3 linked regions of the Homo sapiens genome follow. The main gene of each other region encodes a partner of the protein of the gene in region 3 in a complex. Each region holds a gene or a part of one and is shown on either strand. Other genes may lie near its edges.

Region 1 (7,021 bases), on a different chromosome or scaffold from region 3:
AGAGAGAGGAACAGAAGTCAAGGATCTCTTCTCTGTTTAGACATTTAGAACCAAGCACTTCGACTTTCTAAGCACAGGGTGGAAGGGGCAGGGGCCCAGGCCAGAGACGGGCAGCTGAGCAGGTGCCTGAAAACCGGGACCTGCACTGGTACCCACAGCAGCCAGGTGAACATGGGCAGGGAGGCCACAGGCCAGAAGGCACCAGGCGGGCACGACCTACTGGCCAAAAGGTTCCAGCAGTCTGCTAAGGTGCCAAGCAGCGCCCCGGGGTTGCCCTGCCTGGGGCCAAGCCCCAAGGATGCCTCCCTGTGTGGCTGGGGTGTCCCCGCTGGCCTAGGGGGATCGAGTGTGCTCTCGTGTAAGAGTGTGTGCGTGCGTGTGGCGGGCACAGGGGGCCCCACGGATCGGCGAGCAGCAGTCGGCCGGGCCTTTCAGTGCATTGCGAGGGGGAAGGAGCTGACTCTGACGGTTCCCAGTGTGTCTCTGGTGGGGGTGGGGGGCTTCAGCCTGAGGGGATGTTTCACACATTCACACTGCAGGGGCGGGGCGAGGGGAGCTGCTCTCCCTCTCACACAGCTCTACTGTCAAACATCATGGCACCAGTCACCACAACCTTGTCACGTGCACTAGAAGGGGAGGGGTCCGTGCCTGAGCCCTTGGCAGCAGGCGGTCCCTGGCGTTCTGCGGGGCCATGGTGGACACGCCAGGAGATCTGCACCCCGTGGGCGGTCCCAGCCCACACATGGGGAAGCCGAGAGGACGGAGCCCGCGCCTCCCTCCACATCTACGCGTCTAGCAGAACACAGGGAGCAGGGCCAGGAGCGGGACGAGGGCGCCCAGGAGGGGCCGGGGGGCCAGGGGCAGCCCCGCAGCCGCCCTGCCTGGCAGGTCCCGAGTCCTCTCATACAGGTGCAGTTTGTCTTTGTTGGAGTGGAGCATCTTGACATCCTCCAACGCGTAGTAGGCGGCCAGTGTGAAGTTCACGTCGCCCGTGGTGAGGAGGTCGAAGACGCAGGCCTGGTAGTACAGGTCCTCCACCGGCAGCTTCTCCTTGCACTTGGCCACGGCTGTCTCGTATGGGAAGGTCTCGGGGGCTGTGGGTGCAGGGCTGGCGGCTGCCAGCCTGCGGGCACCGGTGCCCTCAGCATTGGTGTGGAAGGCCTGGAAGTCGATCTGCTGGTTGAGGGGGCAGCCCCGCAGGCAGAGGTAGAGACCCTGGCTGTCCCAGTCCTCCACAGCATTGACCACTTCCTCTGGCATGCGGACGGCAAAGGTCAGGTAGCGGCCCACCTGGCGCACCACGATGGTGGTGCCGATGTACTTGGCCTGGATCTCCACGTGCTGGCCTGACACCTTCTCAGTGATCTTCAGGCTGTTGGCCCCGTGCTTGTCCCCACCGTTCTTAGAGCCATCCACGAAGGCGGCCGGGAGCTCGTCCATCTCAGCCTGGTACACCTTCTGGTCCACACACTCCTGGAAGTTCTTGAAGATGATGGTGAGCTGCCGGGGAAAGGGGCAGAGGAGAGTGGGTGAGGCACAGTGGGAGGAGGCACAGCCCCACACTTAAGATGCTCTAGACTGAGAGGAGGGCAGGAAGGATCCCCAGGGATGCCCCAGACACTCCCTTCTCCAGGTTGGACAGATCAGTTCCACCTGCGCAGCTGTGCACTTCACATTCTTTCAATGAAAACAACTTGCCCTTTTTACTTTAAAAAGTGACTTAGAAAAATGTTAGACCACTACCCTAAGTAGAAAACTAGCTCTTTTACTATATAGGGAAGTGAACCAGAAAAATAAAAGCATAGATAATTAAAAATAAAAGGTCAAAAGCCCAGTGTGGTAGGCTGAATAATGGCTCCCAAGAAGAACATGCCCTAATCCCTGTAACTTGGGAATGTTCCCTTAGATGGCAAAAGGGACCCTGCAGATATGATTAGGTTAAGAACACTGAGATGAAGAGATTATTCTGGATTACCTGGGTGGGCCCTAGATGGAATCACAAGTATCTTTATAAGAAGGAGGCAGAGGGAGATTTGACTAACTAGGACAGAGGAGAAGGTGATGTGCTCAACAAGGCAGAGATTCGAATGATGTGGCCACAAACCAAGGGATGCTGGCAACCACCAAAAGCTGGAAATGGCAATGAATGGATTCTCCCCTGGAGTCTCCAGGACCAGCCCTGCTGATACCTTGATTTTATCCCCACGAGACATATTCCCAACTTCCGGCCTCCACAATTATAAAACATTTCTGTTGGTTTGAACCACTCAGTTTATGCTAATTTGCTACAGTGGCGATAGGAAATGAATATGGTTTGCAAACATCATCTTGCATAATGACAGTGGTACTGGAGCACAATTCCTGACAAAGGACCCAAGCAAATGTCTGAACATTACAGCAGGTGGAATGGAGGGAAATGATGCTCAAAGAAAGAATGAATAGGGCAAAATCCATGCAAGCAGGCAGAGGCAAGCAGAAGCCACTGTCCCAAGGCTGCTGAAAGGGGTCCCCAAGCTGGGTCATGGAGGAGGGGAACAGGAAAGGAGCAAGGTGCTGGTCGGTAAAAGGGAGATGGAGGTTCCAGGCTGAACGGGCAGCCTTGGCCGGGGCTGGAGCAGGGAGGCTCCTTTCTGCTGGAGCCTGTGGCCAGGGGTGAGGGGCTGGACTGAGCTGCTGGAGCAGCAGCTGGCTGGGTGGCACTGTTCTCCTGAGAGCCAGACACAGAGGCATTGGCTGCATACAGCATGCTAAGCACTGCATGTATTACTTCCAGTCTCGTGTGACACTGCAAGGGTCGGTGACATTACTCTCAATTTTCCGGATGAGAAAATGTAGGCTCAGAGAGAGGCAGTAACTTGCCTAAGGTCACACAGCCAGCAAGAGGCAGAGCTGGGATTAGACTCTGCGTTTCCAGACTCTGGGCTCTCTTGGCCACAAGCCCATAGGGTGGGAGGCCTGAGAGGAGGAGGGCCGGTGGCCAGGGGAGCAGGTGAGTTTCCTCTGCCGTCCGCGTCCTGGGTGGCGTCTGGCTGTTCTTTCCTCCCTAACCCTAAGCAGGTTTCTGGGTTGGAAACAGAGAAACTGGGAGAGAAAAAACCACCCCTTCTTCCACTCCTTTCCCAGGTGTCAGCTGTTTTGCCATGGGAGCTCTGGGTGCCTTGGTCCCCCTGGACCAAGGGCAGCTGGAACCTGGACTCCCAGCCTGAAGCCACGAAGGGAGGTGGGGCAAAGGGGACAAGGTGGCACCCAGGCCTTTTGGGACCTCCTGCTAAAATCCCACCTTTATCTGCTGCACTACCCTCTCCCAGGCCCGGCAACTACCCCCACCACTAAGCCCCAACCCCTCACCCCTCTGTAGGTCAGGGCTCATCCCTCCCCACCCAGGAGAGGGTGTGGCCAGCTAGCTGGCTGGCTGACAGAGCTCCCAGGGGATCCCACCCCAACCTGGCCTCAGAGGGTCTGCAGGCTGAAGGGGTCTGAGCAAGGGGGAGCTGCTGATGACATGCACAGCCGTTCTCTGCCTGGGCACTTGGGGGAGGCATGAGGACTGCCTGCCGGCTCTCTGGGTAGAGGGCAATGCCGCCGCGTGCCAAGGGAGTTTCTGGCCTAACAGCAGATGTGTGGCGAGGGCACAGTGCGAGGTGCTAGAAAGCAACAGGAAATAACAAGCTGCTCTGATGGGGAAGGGCAGGCAGGGAAACCACAGAAGGACCTCAGCTCAGGCAGGAGAGTCGCAGGAAGGTGGAAGGTGGGGTCTGGCCAGGAATGCAGCATGAGGCCATCCTGTTCTCTGGGGCCCGGAGGCCAGGGGTGCAGCAGAGTGGCCTGTTTGGGGCGGGCTGGCCCAGGGTCATGGCCTCAGGACCAGGTGCTAAGAGGCCTGAGGCCTGGAAAGGGGTTCCAGAACCTTCTAGGTAATACAAGCCAGTGGGGTATTCAGAGCCACTAGAGGTGCCCCTGGCCGTGTTGCTGTGGCTTTGTGGGTTCCCCATATTGGCATAAGATTTCGGGATGATGAGGTGGGGAGAACTGGTAGCCTGAGGGGTGTGGAACCCCCGGAAGAACAGAGGGAGACCCTAGGCCAAGGCTTCTGAAGAAGGAAAATGTGTTAGTCAGGCAAGGCTGGGAGGAGCTGAACGAGGGGCAGGCTGCTGGAGGACTTTACAAGAAATGGCGGTCTTCTCATGAGCCCGTTCATCTTGGGCACCCGGCGCTGTGCTTTCTGTGCCTGATGGAGGCTGCGGAGGGTCGGGGCTCTGCGGGAGTCCATGCAGCAGCACCAGGAGGACCCCAAGCGCACAGTTCCTTGAGGACCGGACTCGATTTCCTCGCATCCCTTCCTACAGGGGTCCCAGCCTGGCCGCAGGACACGGCACACTTCCCATTTGCCGTGGGATGTCAAAGGTGGCTGCGGCTGCAGCCTCTCCATCCAGCATGGAGCCCTAAGCCTCGAACCTGATGAGATTGCTGCTACTCTACCATTCCTGACCTATGGAAACGGCAACTTCATACGGTTCAGCCTCCTACTTCTTCCTTCTTTCCACCCACTGGCCAGCCCACCTCGGTGGGGAGGCCGCCTGGGGGTGCCGGAGGTGGGCCAGCCAGGGTGGTCTGGGCCGTGGGTGGTCCTGCCATGGGGGGAGGATGGGGGACTCTGGTGTCCCTGCCTGGTGTGCAGGGCCACACAGACACTGGGGGTGGGGGGGGGCGGCGTCCTGCTTTCCAAGTGCCATCAGTCTCCCTGGAACAGGAAAGGCTGGTTTCGCTCTAACCACCATCTCTCGCAGAGACAGCCTCCTGGAAGGCTGACAGGCTGCTTGACTCTTCTTGGCACCGGTGCCAGGGACTCAACCGCAAGTAACAGCATGAAGGGGGCCTGTCGAAAGCTGGCGGCTCGCTGCCAACACAGCCACGGGCGGGCTGCCGCTCCTGTCTCTGCTGCTCCCCCTTCTGAAGGGGTCCTGGCCCTTTCCACTGCACCGGGCACGAGGCAGAGCCCAGGCTGCATCAGCTACTATCTACGGAGCACCACCTCCATGCCAGGCCTGGTGCTGGGGGCTCGGGGTACACGAGGGAGAAGATCCCTATGCTTCAGGGGGTCGCAGACTAAGCAAATGAATCATGCAGAGGGACAGGCTGGCAAGTGCTATGGGGAAAACTAACCAGCGGGGAAAGGAAGGGGAAGGCGCAGGACTTGAGTTCCTGTCCTCTCCTGAGTCTCAGTTTCTTTGTCTGTAAAATGGGTATCAGCAGCACAGATGGGAAGAGGGTGATGGAGCAGGAGGCTGGGCACAGAAGGCTGTCCCACGGGGGTAAGACACTGGCTAAAATGTCCACGTAGAAAACACTAGATCTTGATCGTCCACAAGAACAGAGGGATTGGCTGATTGGCTGATACTGCCAGTATCATGAGAAACAAATAAAGGCCCCTAGTGATGCCCGGGTGTTTGGGGGCAGCTTCATGCACACACAGCTTGCACACGGAGCTTCTGCACAGGAAGGCAAATCTCATAGCTGCAAGGTCAGGGTCAGGCCAGGCAGGGGCTGGACACACTCTGGGAAGCCTGAGGAGAGGCCCTCAAGGGCAGGTGTGCAGGGACAGATGGAGTCTCTGGCTGCCTGAGAGGGGAAAGGGGAGTGGGTTCCAGTGGGTGGTAGAGTCTGGCAGGCCCAGAGGGCTCTGTTGGTGGTAGTCGAGGTGGTCACAGAAACCCAGAGGCCTCATCATCTTGGAGATGAAAGTCCCTTGCCTTTCCCTGCTCCCTGCAGACACCAGGCTGCTCTCCCACTCCGCCTGCTTTGGATGTCGACTCCTCTGTTCCTCCATCCGGAAACTTGCGCTGTGCTTCAGGGGCGAGCTTGGTGGATGGGCTCCCCAGTTCTCTGGACAGAGCCAAGGCTCCCAATGGCCTTCAACATCCTGCTGCCCCAGCCTCCATCGCCAGCTCCCCTTTGCTGGTCTTTGCTCTTCACTAGCCTGGGAGCTTCTGGGAGGGAGGGCAACAACTAGCTCAGAGGCTGGCACAGATGCAACGTCTGTTAAGTGTTTGCTCCATCAATGAGTGAACAAACACACCTGAGTAACGGAGGCCTGACAGACAGGCGGGGGCAGGCCAAAGGTGCCTGAAGCCAGCCACCGACGTTCTCACCGGGGGACCACAATACCCCAGTCTGGCCCGAGTTCTGAGACTGACTTGGCCACAGACACTGACGCTGTCACTGTCTGGCCTCCAGCAGAGCCTGGTTGACAGGGCTGAGCTCTCAGCCTGCTGAGATCAAAGGTGGCCTTCGGTTGCAGCAGAAATGGGCTGGGTTGGTGAAGCTCTGCTTCATACTCTTCTGGAAGCCTCCATGCTGGGATAGGAAGGGAAGTTCTCCCTCCACTGCTCCACCCCGTCACATCACCCCCATCCATAATGGGGGCAGCAGCCCAGCCTCCCTGCACACAAATCACAAATCCTCCCCGGTGCGTGGCTTGGCTCTGTTGTCGCATTTGGTGCTTCCACCCCCTGGGGTCTGGAGGAGCGAGCCACCTGGGGTCCACATCCCTCTCACATCCTCAGACCTCCCTGTGCGCCCTGCCAGCCCTTGGGAACCTGCAGGATGGGACAGGGAGGCCAGGTCCCCTCTGAAGCGTGCTGGTGCCTGGATTTAGAAGCTGCAGCCTCAGGCTCCTGGCGTCCGTCTGTCTTGGCTCTCAGGAGGGCGGGTGGTGGGGAGGTGCAGGGGCCGTGGGGGAGGTGGCTGGGTCCTTGATGCAGGCAGGCCCTGAGTATGCGGAGGGCTGCGGGGGCACAGGGTGGAGTGTACCGGCTGCAAGTCTTCTCCATTAGGTGTCATGTTGTGGTGCCAAGGGCCCGCTTGGGAATCCACAGGGCGAAGACCTGCTTATTTCCCGCCCAGCCAGGGACCAGAAAGTGACCCCCTGCAGGCAGGCAAGGGCCACCGGAGCAGAGGGAAGTGGCAGGGATGGAGCATTTCCTTGGCTGCCAGGTCACCTCGCTGTCCTCCTCTGGGTGTG
Region 2 (7,504 bases), on a different chromosome or scaffold from region 3:
TTTGGGTTCAGTGCATCTTCCCCCCAATCAGACCTCATACATAGTTAGAGATCTGATCCAAGTAGAGATGCAGGACTACTATGGCCCTCAATCCTTGATCCCTTCTCCTATTTATGTTCCAGTATTACCTCATCCCTACTTAACCCCCTCTCTACTTAATCGTGGCAACTTCCTAGGAGAGGGAAAAGTTTCCCTTCTGAAACTCCTCAGGTCCGCCCTCTCCGACTGTCTCTTCAAGGTTTTCTGCATTTGAGTCAAATTCCCATCAAGGGGAAGTGATTTACAGCTCCAGGTGTTTGGTAGAAGGGAGTGATTCGAGATGGGGGAGAGGTTGAGGAAGAAAAGGGAATTAGGGAGCATTGCTGTTGAATAGTGGGGATGGGGAGGAATGGTGCCCGTGGAAGAATCTCATGAGGTGGATCGGAAGGAAGATTGAGTGCCTGACCTTCCGGGTGGCGGTAGCGTTGGCCCCCAACGCCATGGGGGAGCTGGTGGCTTGGACAAAGAGGAAGTCATTATCCAGTAGAGGCCAAGCTCCTTGGACACGGCATGTGTGAAAGTGATGGTGGAAGCTGCGCACATGGGGGTCCCCGAAGGAAGCGCAATGCAAGAACCCCGGGGGACGACCATGCAGCCGGGAAAACCGGCCTTCATAGTCACAAGGGTCCGGGGCAGGGAGGCCGGAGCCCGCGCCTGGAAGGGCGGGGCCCCGGGGCGGGGGAGGGGCTGTAGGGCCCTGGCGGGAGCAGTTGTGCTGGATCATCAGGTCTTCGATGCCATGTACCGCCGAATGGAAGGCGAGGTCCCCGCGGCAGGTGCGGGCGGTGCGCCGAGTGCAGAGCGCATAGGAGCGGAGGGCTCGACAGAGGCCGCCAGAGCCCACCCCTCCACCCCGGCCTCCTCCTCCTCCTCCTCGAAGTGCTCCTGATGAACCCCCACCTCTAAGGCTCAGAGTGGACGATACGTACTCAGCATTGCAGCGGAGGATCTTGCATTGAGAATGAGCTAAAGACAGAAGGGAGAGGATTGTGAGACGGTCCTCAGACCTCTGCTCTATCGGAGTGTAGTTTGCTCATAACTCTTCCAAATCTCATCAGGGGTTTCCAGCCTTCCTAAAACCTAACTAAGGGCCTTCCCCAGCCCCCAACCCCCTAGTCCCTAGTTCTCTCGGCTGTCTTACTAAAAGTGTGTAAGCCTGCCACATCTCTTCTGCCTGTCGACCAAGGGCTTCCCCAGTGGCCTTCCCCAGACTGAACGGGAAATAAAATATTAGTATTTGAGAGCAGGGCGAGTGATCGGGACTCTCAGCGCCTATCTCTCCTCACTCATTCAGGCTCACATGCCCACCCCTACATAGCAGCCTACCCTCTAGATTTCCCCAAACCCTTCCCTGGCCCTTCCTTACCATGTCCACAGAGGAGCAGCAGGAGAGTGAGAGTGCTTAGAGTTGGGGGACTGCCATGGGAGGACCTGGGACTAGGGGACTGGCCTGGCTCCCCCATACCTATCCAGCCAGGTTTCCCAGGCGCCGGTTCTTCCCAGCTGATGACCCTCCTACCTAGTGAATTTTGACCGGAAGCCCTGTAAGTGACTGAAAAAAGAAATTTGGCTGGACATGGAGAGAGAGAAGAATTGAAGATTGGTAAGGATAATGTGGAGTGAATCTGGGGAGATCAAGAAAAGGATGAACAGACTGGAATTTGGGGAGATTGGAGTTCCTCAAACTATAAGTGTGGCAGTTAAGCCTCTTTGCCCTGTTCCTGTGGCCACTTTTAGGGCCCTTGTGCAATACCCCTAGGTGGGGGTGGAGGGAAGGTTGAGTGAACTCAAGGGGGCAGAGTCCACTGTATTGCTCCATTCTGAGCTACCAAACAGCAGGTATGTCAAAGATGGAGGAATCATGGGGCTAGATCAGATACCAGTAATCCTAGTGGGTACCCTAGTAAAATTAGGACCTGAAAATATTTCAGAAACATACTTCTTATTTGTCCCTCTCCATTAGGAGGAGATGCCCTCTAGGAGTCATACATTTCTTTTCCTCCTTTGTGTCAGAACACAAGAAGGATTAAGGGTGGCATACCCATCCCGTCTAGAATATCAGTATTCAAATGAAAAGGAAACCAATCTCTTTTCATCAGCTCTAGAGAGCTGCAATTTTAATCTCCCTCTCTCATGGAATAATGGGATGCAAACCAAACATGCAAATCAATATTTGTTTTTTCTAAGTCAACAGTTCTTGTATTTTCCCAAATATCACTCCTTCCATTAATCTCTTCTTTTCAAATTCTGAAGTTCTCAGTCTTTTATGATGACAGGAGTTGGAGAGGGGCTAAATCCCTCCTGCCTAACTCCCCTATCTTATGGGTAAGGATATGATTGGGGGAAGAGTCCTGCAAGAGGGAGAATAGAATGGAGGGACTAGAGTTGTGGGGAGAAATCATTTACAGGGAGCAGCCCCCATGCTTGGAATCTCAATGTGAAGGGCATTGCTAAGTGGGGGCAGGATAGAAGGGTATCAGTGACTCATCATCTGAGGTCATATTTGGCCTTGGTAAGAAAACTACAGAATAGAGGACGTAGGGAACTCCTTCTAAAACTTCATCAGGAGTCTTGAGGTAATAAGGTAAAGAGAGGGCTAAGACTGCCAGAGGAGAGACAGAGAATTAAACTTCAAAAAGCTAGAGGCCAGAGGCCAGAAAGAAATAAGACAGAAAGAGAAATGGAGATTGGGGCACCTTGGTAGGGAGAGATCCCAGCATTTGGACGAGAGACATCCAAGTAGGTGTTTGTAATTTTATAAAAGTCTAACTTCAATATAAAAGCTTATTAAAGGAATTGCAATTTCATTTTGACTTACTGTTTCCAGAGGTCAAACATTACTCTGCTATCCAATTCTCCAGCCATGATTCCCTACTCTGTGGGTCAGCTCCAGCCAGGGGGTCCTCCGTGTCTCCCCCAGGTCCCCAGGCCGGCTGCTGTCTCACTGAGGTCAGGGAACCAGAGAAGGTTTGGTATGGGGGGAAGGGGGAGTATATGGCTGGCCAGAGTACTGGACAGCTGAGCAGGGAGGGAGGTGGCTACTGAGTTGACGGTTTTAAAAATAGCTAAGTCCAAAATTCCAGGAACGTTGGTGGGGGTAGGGTGTGGGAGTTGGGGGAGTGGGGAGGGTTAGAGGATTAGAAAGAATATGGAGTATTGAGTGCCAAGTCAGGGAGGGAGGAGAGAAATATGACAGACAAGTTGGATATCCAATTCCAGCTTGTGTGACTCTGTGGTCACTGCCTACTCCAGGCAGCCCTCCAGCATTTTCAATAATGTTGAGCTCCTGGCCTTTAAAAATTACAGTGGGCAATTGGATACCTTTCATTTACCATGTTCATCCCTGCTATGCTGAATATTACATTTAGGTTCTACAGATAGTATCTAGGAGGTAGCTGACTTTGAATAAGATCCATAGCAGAGGTAGTTCATAGCCCCTCTCCTATCTTTGCAGAGTATTTCAGAAGGACGAAAAAAGCCAGCTGTCCAGAGAAGAAATCTGAGCTGTGAGTTGCTTAGGATGAGGGTTTGTTCAGTCTATCCAGCTCAGATCCTTGCAGCTGTCTATCCTCCTACCTACTCCATTTTCATTACTTTAGTTTGTACAGCAATTCATCTTCCTCTCCCTCATGAATACACAAAAAATAAAGGCTCCCGATTTGCTTGGAGAGAAGGCTAACAAAGGCAAAGAGGTGAAGAAAGAATGGAAATAGAATTCTTCTAAAGAAAGAGTTGGAGAAATAGAAAAAGATTCAAAAATATACTTTTCCTTCCTTCCTTCCTTCCTTCCTTCCTTCCTTCCTTCCTTCCTTCACTCCCTCCCTCCCTCCCTCCCTCCTTCCTTCCTTCCTTCCGAGATGAGGTCTCACTATGTTGACCAGGCTGGTCTTGAACTCCTTGCCTCAATGAATCCTTCCATCTCAGCCTCTCAGAGTGCTGGGATTACAAGTGTGAACCAACATGCCTAGCCTCAGAAAGATACTTTTATGGAATAACATAATCTTGTGACCATAAATATTGCAAAATCTCAGCACTTTGGGAGCTGAGGCAGGAGGGTCACTTGAGCGCAGGAGTTTGAGGCTGCAGTGAGCTATGATAACGCCATTGCACTCCAGCCTGGGCAACAGTGAGACCCGCCCCCCCACCCCCCTTAAAAAAGAAAAGAGATACTGCAACCAAGGGATTTAGCCATGTCATGTTTTTGCAGCCATAGGTATATCTGAGATCATCATCTTTTAGTACTTGCCAAGTGAAATTAACAGAAGGACCGATTCCAAATACGGTCACTGTATTAGGGTTCTCTAGAGGAACAGAACTAATAGGGCATATATCTATATCTGTATCTACCTCTATCTATATAGAGATCTATATCTATATCCATGTCTATCTATCTAGCCATCTAGACTGGCCATCACCAGTCTGCTTTCTGTCTCTCTAGATTTATTAATATCTATATAGATATGGATATCTATATAGGTAGATATATAAATAAAGGGGAATTTATTAAGTATTAACTTACACAATCACAGGGTCCCACAGTAGGCTGTCTGCAAGCTTGAGGGGCAAGGAGAGCCAGTCTCAGTCTCAAAATTGAAGAACTTGGAGTCTGATGTTCAAGGGCAGGAAGCATCCAGCATGGGAGAAATATGTAGGCTGGGAGGCTAGGCCAGTCTCTCCTTTCATATTTTTCTGCCTGCTTTTTATTCTAGCTGTGCTGGCAGTGAATTAGATTGTGCTCACCCAGATTAAGGGTGGATCTGCCTTTCCCAGCCCACTGACTCAAATGTTAATTTCTTTTGGCAACACCCTCACAGACACACCCAGGATCAATACTTTGTATCCTTCAATCCAATCAAATTGACACTCAGTAATAACCAACACAATCACTAAGCCATCTTTACCAGTTGGCTCTATTTTAATACAGAGTCTAGAGGCCCTCATAGCACTCTTCTCAGGTATATATATGACAAATATTTTTGTCAAATATATACTTCTCAGGTATATATATATGACAAATATTTCTCAACCATTAGAGGCCATATCACAAGCAGTTTCATTATAGAAATGTAAAATGCTTCTAACCAAACTATTCAAGTGACTTTAAAACATAATAATTTGACTATGACAGCCTAAGTGGGATATACTATAATGCCAGAAAATAAATGCAAAAATATTTTTAAATAGCCATATTATGGTGTTAGTGTTGGTATTGTTATTCTGAGATTATTTTAGTTATGAGATAAAACAAATGATTAATAATGTTAGTGTCTCTGAGAACCAGAATTTTTGGGGTGGAATAAAGAGATACATATTTACGATTGATGAAGTTAAGAGAAAACTCCGTAATTCTGAATTTAAATTGCAAATATAACTCTGAACTCATGGTTTATTTTATCCTTAAAATTTTCCTAGCTTTACCCTAAAAAGGCCTGGAAACAATGATCCAGTAAAAATAAACACCTCTAGTACTCAAATTGTGCTATGTAAATACCATTTTCTGTTAAAAGGGACCAACAAACAACTCCTTGGATAAGTGGCTGATTTCAGGTTTGGGGCAGGTATTGTCCAAGATAGGCAAGGAAGCTTTCAAAGAGTGTTAGGATTGTAATAAAAGAACTTAGGAGCCAACTAGAATAGTTCCCATTGGCCAAAGATGGGGCAATTTAAGTATCAAAATGGATACTATCTGCAATGGATTGAAATTCATAAAATATGTTTAAATCCATGAATTCACAATGATACTTAAAAATACAAACCCATTGGTCATTGTTGGAGAATGCTGGCAGATCAACTCATTATTTTAAAAACTGCTGGTAATTGGAAAGAATCAAGTATTTATCCTGGTTTTCTTTTGGGAACTGTATCTCAAGATGAGGGGGAAATTTCTCTTTATAGAAGCATTCCAGTAAATAATTGAAGAAGGGATAATATAATTAGAATATCAACATTTTGTAAATCCAAATGAATTAATATATCTAGGCAATGGTCAACAATGACTGTGGCAGGGCACAGTGGCTCACACCTGTAATCCCAGCATTTTGGGAGGCTGAGGTGGGAGGATTGCTTAAGCCCAGGAGTTCAAAACCAGCCTGGACAACATAGTAAGAGCCCATCTCTACGTAAACAAAAAAACAGTGGCTGTTATTCATCATGAAAACAGAGATAAACATGTTTTCCTGATCATAGAGTACATAACTCCACCTTGCATGAAGTAGCCATACCAAAAACAAACAAACAAACAAACAAACAAACAAACCAGTCTGAATCTGATTAGAGCTAACTACTAATTTACAGGAAATACAGGAGACATTAAGTGGTAACTCAAAGGTGCAAATTCAGACTTTGTGAATACTCTACAGGACAAATGACCTGGGTTCGTTCTTTCTTTTCTTTTTCTTTTGAGACAGGGTCTCCCTCTGTCACCCAGAGATCTCGGCTCACTGCAGCCTCTGCCACCTGGGTTCAAGTGATTCTCATGCCTCAGCCACCTGAGTAGCTAGGATTACAGGCATGTGTCATCACACTCAGCTAATTTTGTATTTTTAGTAGAGATGGGGTTTTGCCATGTTGGCCAGGCTGGTCTCGAACTCCTGGGCTCAAGTGATCCGCCCACCTTGGCCTTCCAAAGTGCTGGGATTACAGGCATAAGCCACTGCGCCCTGCCAATATGTTCTTATATAAATATGTATATATTACATACACACACACAAATATGTGTGTGTGTGTGTGTGTGTATATATATGTATATTCTTCACATAGTCAATTGATATTGGAGAAATTTGACCATTATCTTTGTCAAAGCTCATTAACTAAACACCACTGGAAACAAATCTGTAGTCAAAAAAGTTAAATCTACTGGCTTGCTGTAGCAAGGGAGAGAATGCCCCAAAGGAATTATGGGACCATTTCCCTAAGGAGAGGTTAAAAGGAACCTCTTATAGAGTTTCAGCTTCTGTTGGATATTTCTGAACTACAGTTTAGAATAGTGAGGGCTGATTTTGTTGTTTGTTTGTTTTTTCCTAGTCTCTAAAACTCTGAATGAGGACTAATTTGGGATTGAATACTGTTAAGAAGTGGGGGCGTTTCAGTGATTGGGTGTCTAAATAATTCTTACCTAGGAAGCAAGAGGATTATAACCCAAATTGGTAAAGAGAAAAAAGCATTAGTTACTCATGTTAGTCTGAAGAGGGGATTATCTGGTCATTTTTGTGGTAGCAGAGTGGTGTGTCATCTCTCTTTTGTTGAGAATACAGTTGTGGTGTGGCTCTGATAAGCCAAGAGATAGTAACTGCCAACCTAGACTTCCATACTCAGCTAAAATATTATTCCAGAATTAAAAATAAGTAAAACATTTTCAAACACATCAAAACCTGAAGGAATTTACCAACAAAGATTCTTTTTTTTTTGAGACAGAATCTTACTCTGTCACCCAGGCTGGAGTGCAGTGGTGTGATCTCAGCTCACT
Region 3 (7,021 bases):
CCTCTTCCTGGCTTGCAGCCAGAAGAGCTACTCCTCCTGGAAGAATTGGAGAGAAATCAAGTGATGGGGAAGATGAGGGCAAAAGGCATGCCTCTAGTCAGCTAAACGTGCAAGAATTCCACAGAGGGAAAAGGAGAAAAAGGGAGGCAGATTGAGATTTCTTTAAGTCTGTTTGGAAGCTTTTGCTCTATAAATCTGCCGCTTAAGCCAGGGTTTTAGGGTAGACAGAGCCAAGGGCAGAGTTTTCAGAGATAGTATTGAAAAATCAAAGCCCAGGGCCCCAAAGTCTTTCTAATTTATAGTTGATCTGGGCCTGGTTTGGAAGATTTTGAATCCCAATCTAATCCCCGTGGGAGATCAATACTACAATCAATCTTATTGTTTCCACAATGACTTTCTTGTCCTGTGCTTAAATCTGAGATAGGCTCTGAGTAGAGACAAGGCAAGCCTTCAGATAAAAGCGTTTGTAGCAGCTGCCTGTTTTTTTTTCATGTGCACCGAAATGTGGATTTTTTTTTCTTTTATGATACTACATGTGGTTTTTCTAAGGTGGGATATTTCTGCTTGTTTCATCAGAAGGGCATTTAGTGGACTGGAAATGTCTTACAGCAGCTATTGAGGTCTGCTGTACCTAAGTTCTTAGAGCAATTAGTCAAAAATATGTTCCACTTCAATTCTTTTTCTACACTTTTAAATGCTTCTTTGGCTTAATACATTTAAAATAGAGCATGGGTTTCTTCAATTCCTAGAAAAGAGTACAAAAGTGTATATCACAGAGCAACCACTTGGCAGATATTTGGGGAGTTGGGAGTGAAGTTCTCTTTCTTGCCTTTCCCTGCTTAGGTGGTAAATTTCAAGTGGGAAATTTACACTGATAATAGACTAATGGGAAATGGCACTTCCAGATGTTTTCTCCCAGTGTGAAGGGTGACTTATACTTGTGAGAGTATTTGTTGGTAATGGGAATAAGTCCCAAAGGCAAGCCACATAGCAGAAGATACGTTCTCATTGAGGCAGCTACACATTACGACGGGGACACTGAATTGATCATCAGTTCATTTACAAGCACATTTCTAAGTGAGGTGCTCTCTGCTAGCAGAAATCAGATTTGAAAGGCAGTAAGATCTCACTCCACTCTTTCAGAATTCATCCAATGAAAGCAGAAATCACCTGTTGTCATATGTAAAATTTGTGTGTATGTGTACATTCTGCCATCTTAACCCTGAAATGATTATAGATCCAGCTAATCATTCCCAGGTAATGCTGATTAGAATACTTTTTTTTTTGTATAGGAATGTAATAAGAACAACTGTTTTAGACACCTCTTCTGGAAATTTAGCATGGAAGCTCTCAACTTTATTTTTAAGGCCTGGAAGATGCTGTGTCTCTGTTACAACTTAAAAGGAAGATCATTTAAGTTAGTTAACACCTAAAACATTCCATTGTGTGAGGATTTTATCAGTGATGTCTGCATATTCTCATCATTCATCTAGAAGTGGTTTGATCAGAACTAAACAGGCTACACGTTATTCAACTGTGTTATTTTAACTTAAAAAGCATGCTTGAGTTTATAAAATCAGAATTTATATCTTTGTGAGTGTAAATGTTACCTGAGAAACAGTACAGAAGTGACCAACTTGATTAAAATCAACTTGTAATAACTTCAGGTCTTAATGCAGTTAGATAATGGAGAAAAGCTATGTAATTTTGCCCCAAATTTCAACTAATCCATTTCTTGTCTCATTATGACTAATATATCATCCTTAATCTGGATGGATATAGCACTTTTTTCAAGACTAATCATTGTTGTATACACCCAGGATTTGCTTTTGATAAACATCCTTGTGCCATGCATGCCACGAAAAAAGTTTTTGGTAAACCATGTGATGAAGGTTGCTGGCTCAAGAACAGAATTTAGTTTCTACAGCATTAATGAGCATTTATTTGAAAAAAGACCATAAAGACCCAATCATAAGAATTACCTGTTGGGTTTTCTTTGTAGGTGTGATCGAATGGTTTGGTGGAATTACTCGACGAGATATCATGATAGCATTCTTTCAACCAATATGAGTATAATGCGACCATATCATAGGGGATCTGAGACAGAATTATCAGTTGTATTTTTCCTATTGAATTTTGTCTAGTCCTTTCTCCAGTGGCTTTTATTTGGGAGAATATCAGCTTTGCTAAAATGTTATTGTTTTCAAGATCATTAAAAAGTGCTTCAGCTACATAGACCTTTGGAAACTGCCATTGAACATAGAAAAGTCAGTTCTGCAAGTGGAAAGAGTGTTTTGTGTATTGCTGTAGTTGGAAACACATTGAAACTGGTTGACTTCACTGGCCCTCCAAAAAGTCTTTATGCTTTTTTGTCAGATGGGAGAGAGAAAGACCAGGTGCTTCTTGTTCTCCTCACTCTGAAGGACACAGTCTTCTTTCTACATGAAATAACTGGATTATTTGCCTCTGTGACTGAAGCTTTCAAATAGAGATTAACCCTCTTTCCACAAATATAATTATTATGAAAATATCCATATAATAGAAAAGTTCAAGAAATAACTATTGCCCTGCATTAGAGACTTTGTGGCACAAATTCCCCCGTGCAAACAACAGATTTGGACACATAGATCCACCAAAACCAATACTTACCTGGTATGGTTCCCTAGTGGCCCCAGGTATTTCATTGTCATTACAGAGGCCACATTAAGTAGGAAAATTACTCTATTTGGAAATGGTTGTTGAGATTGAGGCTTTGGTGTCCAGTGATACTTCCTTGGCACTGACATTTTCCGTTCCACCTGTTTTTTAGTGGTTCCCCTAAATTTCTCTTAATCCCTTTGCAGTGAACTATTTTGCGTTCTTAGACTTGCTCTTTGTGTATTTTCACTGAGACAATAAGAGAATATTTCATCATTCCGAAGGTGTTGGTGTTAAGGGTGGGCAGAGGCCAAATCAGGGTTGTTGATGACAACCATGCTCTCTATTCCTTTATTTGCCATTCCCTTGTTGTATTTTTTTTAAAATGGAATGTTTTTAACCTTTTGTATTTGATATTTTTTTTCTCCTTGATCAGTTGTCTGTTATTTTATTATCTGGAAAATCTTATATTATACTCAGCCTCTTTCATTTTGTGTTAGGGCAGTGACTTCCAGCCTTACTGATTGCCAGCATATCCCCAGGTTTTGTTGTTGTTGTTGTTGTTTTACTGGAGATTTTTTAGCCCAAAGTGTGTTTTAAAATCCTCGAAGCATAACGGTAACTTACTTTTTTGATAAAACTTACCATACTTTATTTAGAACAAAAGGGCAGCCACAAAATAGCAGTGGCTCCTTATAAAATAGACACATTCCAGTGGGCCCCGTCACTTTTCTGCTCATTTCTGTCTGTTCTGTCCATCATACCTAAGTCATATATTTCTGTTCATTTAGTTGGGACAGAACTCACCCAATGTTATCATTGTACTAAATATAAATGTGCCCCTAATGGTTTTGACTTTTGCTTAAGTTTTTGAGTCCTCATGTATGTTAGGTAGTGCCATCTAGTAGCCAGAAATTTGGGAACTGGCTGGGCATGATGGCTAATACCTGTAATCCCAGCACTTTGGGAGGCTTAGGTGGGTGGATCACTTGAGGTCAGGAGTTCCAGACCAGCCTGGCCAACATGGTGAAACCACATCTCTACTAAAATATAAAAAAATAGCCAGGTATGATGGCCCATGCCTGTAATCCGAGCTAATTGGGAGGCTGAGATGGGAGGACTGCTTGAACCTGGGAGGTGGAGGCTGCTGTGAGCCAAGATTGTGCCACTGCACTCCAGCCTGGGCAACAGAGTGAGACCCTGTGTCACAAAAACAAGAAACAAAACAAAACAAAAGACAAGAAACCTGAGAAGCGCAGTAGATTCAATTATATATATCTACTTTTAATTTGCTAGCTCTGTGACCTTAGGAAAGTTACATAACCTCTCTGAACTGCAACTGTTTCATTTACAAAATGGAGATAATGATAGTTTTTCTCTAATTGGTTTGTTGTGAGATAATTCATATAAAGCTGATGGTGCCAGATTACACTCAAAAAAAGCATTCAGCTGTCATTATCATTATGACTTCTTTTGTTAATGTTATAGCCTTTCCTTCTCTAGGGAAAAGGAGGCCAGAGTGGACCTAGGCTGACTGAGAGAATTCAGCTCAGTCTTTTGAATTATTTTGAGGTAGAGGAATGATTGATATAGTATAGATTATTAAATTAGGACTTCACTTTTGGAGAAAAGTTCAGATATCATTGTTGTCTTATTTTTCTTCACTTTCCCACATTTTTGCAGCCATAGCTCCATCCATTTGGTTAAGAACTTAGAAGCTCACAAACTCGGGTCAAAGACAGGTCGAAATCCTCAAATCCCTTAAGAACTTCAGCTTATTCAGGAAGGGATATTTACAGAAAACTAGCAATTGTATAAGTCTCCAAAAAAGCATACATTACTTGAGGATCCATATATTTTTGGCATCCTCAGGGTTGCTGTGATGATTTATAGAAGGTTTGTTTATTTAATTTACTTTATTTCAAATAGGTTTTAATTTTTGTACCCTTAAGAAAAGATTCGTACTCTTCCCTGGCAGATTAAAGAAAATGAGCGTATATTCCCTAACCTTGGCCAGTTACTTTCCTGGGTTTGAGGGTTTCTGTGAACGTCTAACTTACCTCTGTGACCTGTTTCTGCAACCAGGGGTGTTGCAATGGATGCTTTTGTCTTGAGGATGGGACCTTTCAAGAAACAGATTCACTGAGGTGCAGTGGGAAGGTCAGAGAAAGATCTTCGTATCGCCTATTATTATTTGCTCGTCTATTTTTTCTCCTTTCTTAAGGCCACTAACTGATTCTCCTTTGCTAAGGCTGCCTACTTCCACTGAGACCTTGAACCACATGAAATTGTTGTTGTCTGTGTTTCTGGTCAAATAGTGGCAATTTTGTATGATTCAATCTTGTCATTTAATTTTTTGGGAGGTTATTATTCTATTTCATACCTTTTTTATACCCATCTTCTTTACTTCATTTACCTGTCCCTCATACTTGACTTGTAGCTTGTCCCTTCACTGTCATCGTCTGGCCATGTGGGTGTGTACGTGTGTGCGAGAGAGAGAATGTGTGAGAATGTATGTTTCTTTATGCATTGGGATTTAGGGTTTTTCTTGCAATTGTGATTTCTCTGGGCACTTTTGTTAATATAGCTAGTCAGCGAGTGCTCTAGATAATTTTCCTTGCCTCCCCCTCTTTGAAAGAAAAGAGGGTGTTCTTAGATGTATTCTTATCAGATAAGCCAGTAGCTCAGGTGCTGGTCTGGCTTTGGTGTCATTGGGGTCTGAGGTTGCTGACTTTTACCTTCTCTGCTGAAAAATTACCTTCAGCAGAAACGTCTGAATTGCAAGGAGAAGGAGAAAAAAACAGGCCAAACACAGTCCTTGGTACTCCTTGGGAGCCACTGAGAAGAGTCCAGGTTCAAATGGTCAGAAGGTTATTTTAATGATTGTGTCTGGCCTAAAGTACCATTAGCTTCCAGTGGAGTTTAGAATGTGGATGGATCCTGAAAGGTATTCCCCAGAGGTTTGGATTAATAGGCACAAGGGAACCCTAAAGGACTCTATTGGCCTGATACTCCCCATATCCACGTAGAAGAGCTTTAGAAGAACCTTCTGTTCTGAGACCCTGGCTGGGCCCACCCAGAGCTGGCCCATTCAACTCTTACTCCTTTGCCACCACTAATGGTTCTTCTACTAGTTTTTATATTATTTAACAAAAAGGCACTTTAAAAATGCACTCCTGGCAATCTATACTGGAATATGAAAAACATGCTGCAAAACCTTGACACTCCAAGTGTGGTCTTACAGTTCCCAGAATCCCCTCCTTGAGGAGCTGCTAGAAATGCTGAATCTCAAGCATCTCCCCAGACCTACTGAATCAGAGCCTGCATCTGAAGCTTTACGGTGTACAAGCTGTTTTATGTGAAGGCTGAAGTTTGAAAAGCACTGCATTAAAGCGTTAGTTTGGTATAAACTGCCCTGACTGAACTTGGTGTGTCCACTTAGCTTGCATGATGACTGTTGCTTTGATGATGAAGGCTTACACGGGTAGATCCTTTGAGTGAGTGATCTGACATGATTCTCCTTTGCTAAGGCATCTAGATTCAGTGCACAACTTACAGCTGTTTGTCTTTAGGGGAAATACAACTGTAAAATTAATAAAAACATAGTCTCTTCTTATGATAACATGGAACGATGGCAAAATAGATTTTGTTAGCACTTGGGTAGGAATTCTGAATGAAGCAGGCAAATTCTGTTGGCAGTGAAATGATAGGATGTGGTAAAGTTAGAATAAAATAAACTTAAATGTCTCAAACTCTCATGGTATATACTACCAGTTTAATAATAATGTTGTACCTTTGATGATTTGCAGACTACAAGCATTCAAGGTGCTGTGTTATATATTACTTGCTTGGAGAATAATACTTCTTAAAAATTGAAATTCAGAAATTTTAAATCAGACAAAGCTTTTGTGCATGGCCCACTTAAATGGCTATTTTGAAATAATGATAGTGGATATAGAAGGATTATTCTGTAATAGGATGAGACTGTTCCTTTTGTCATGGAGATCATAATCATATTTTTGTAAATTTTTATTATTTTTTTGGTTTTGTGTCCATCCTGCACACTATTACTGGGTAGGTACATGGTTTTTTAACATGGTTTATCTTTCAAAACTATAAAGGCATTGCAAACAGAAGACAGGTCATTTATTTTTCTTCCAAAAGCATCTAAAATGAGATTTTGATATTTGAGGTCATAAAGAGGTGAGAGAACAGACAACAGTTGGGAAAGCTATTTCTCTTGAAATTGTTTGGCCTTAATTACTACAGTGTCCTAGTACCACCCATACGTTTCCAAAGAAGTAGATCCCTGTAAATGCCTTTGTCTCTGGACTTTTGAGTAAAATAGTAGGGTGTGCTTTGCAAAATGTCATCGTTGATGTTG

Evidence for each region. The genes of interacting proteins can lie anywhere in the genome.
Region 1: the proteins of BMP2 (region 3) and RGMA are in contact, whole or in part, in a crystal structure (PDB 4UHY), measured with the Homo sapiens proteins. Residues at the interface, in NP_001191.1 of Homo sapiens: Val308, Gly309, Trp310, Asp312, Trp313, Met371, Tyr373, Leu374, Asp375, Glu376, Lys383, Tyr385, Met388; in NP_064596.2 of Homo sapiens: Arg91, Arg94, Gly95, Leu97, His100, Ser101, His104.
Region 2: the proteins of BMP2 (region 3) and HJV are in contact, whole or in part, in a crystal structure (PDB 4UI1), measured with the Homo sapiens proteins. Residues at the interface, in NP_001191.1 of Homo sapiens: Phe331, Pro332, Ala334, Asp335, Leu337, Asn341, Ile344, Val345, Leu348, Ser351, Val352; in NP_001366281.1 of Homo sapiens: Leu40, Asn43, Tyr46, Val47, Tyr86, Leu101, Ala102, Ser105, Ala106, His108, Gly109, Ile110, Asp112, Leu113.

Annotation. Positions count from the first base shown.
Region 1 is NC_000015.10:93,044,206-93,051,226, forward strand, and holds part of RGMA (repulsive guidance molecule A isoform 3 precursor), read right to left. Parts: intron 1,501-7,021; coding exon 793-1,500; 3' UTR 1-792.
Region 2 is NC_000001.11:146,018,730-146,026,233, forward strand, and holds the start of HJV (hemojuvelin isoform a precursor), read right to left. Parts: upstream 3,007-7,504; 5' UTR 2,858-3,006; intron 1,610-2,857; exon of another isoform or gene 1,592-1,609; 5' UTR 1,503-1,591; coding exon 1,406-1,502; intron 1,006-1,405; coding exon 446-1,005; intron 1-445. UniProt on the Homo sapiens protein: Acts as a bone morphogenetic protein (BMP) coreceptor. Through enhancement of BMP signaling regulates hepcidin (HAMP) expression and regulates iron homeostasis.
Region 3 is NC_000020.11:6,770,682-6,777,702, forward strand, and holds part of BMP2 (bone morphogenetic protein 2 preproprotein), read left to right. Parts: intron 1-7,021. UniProt on the Homo sapiens protein: Growth factor of the TGF-beta superfamily that plays essential roles in many developmental processes, including cardiogenesis, neurogenesis, and osteogenesis. Induces cartilage and bone formation.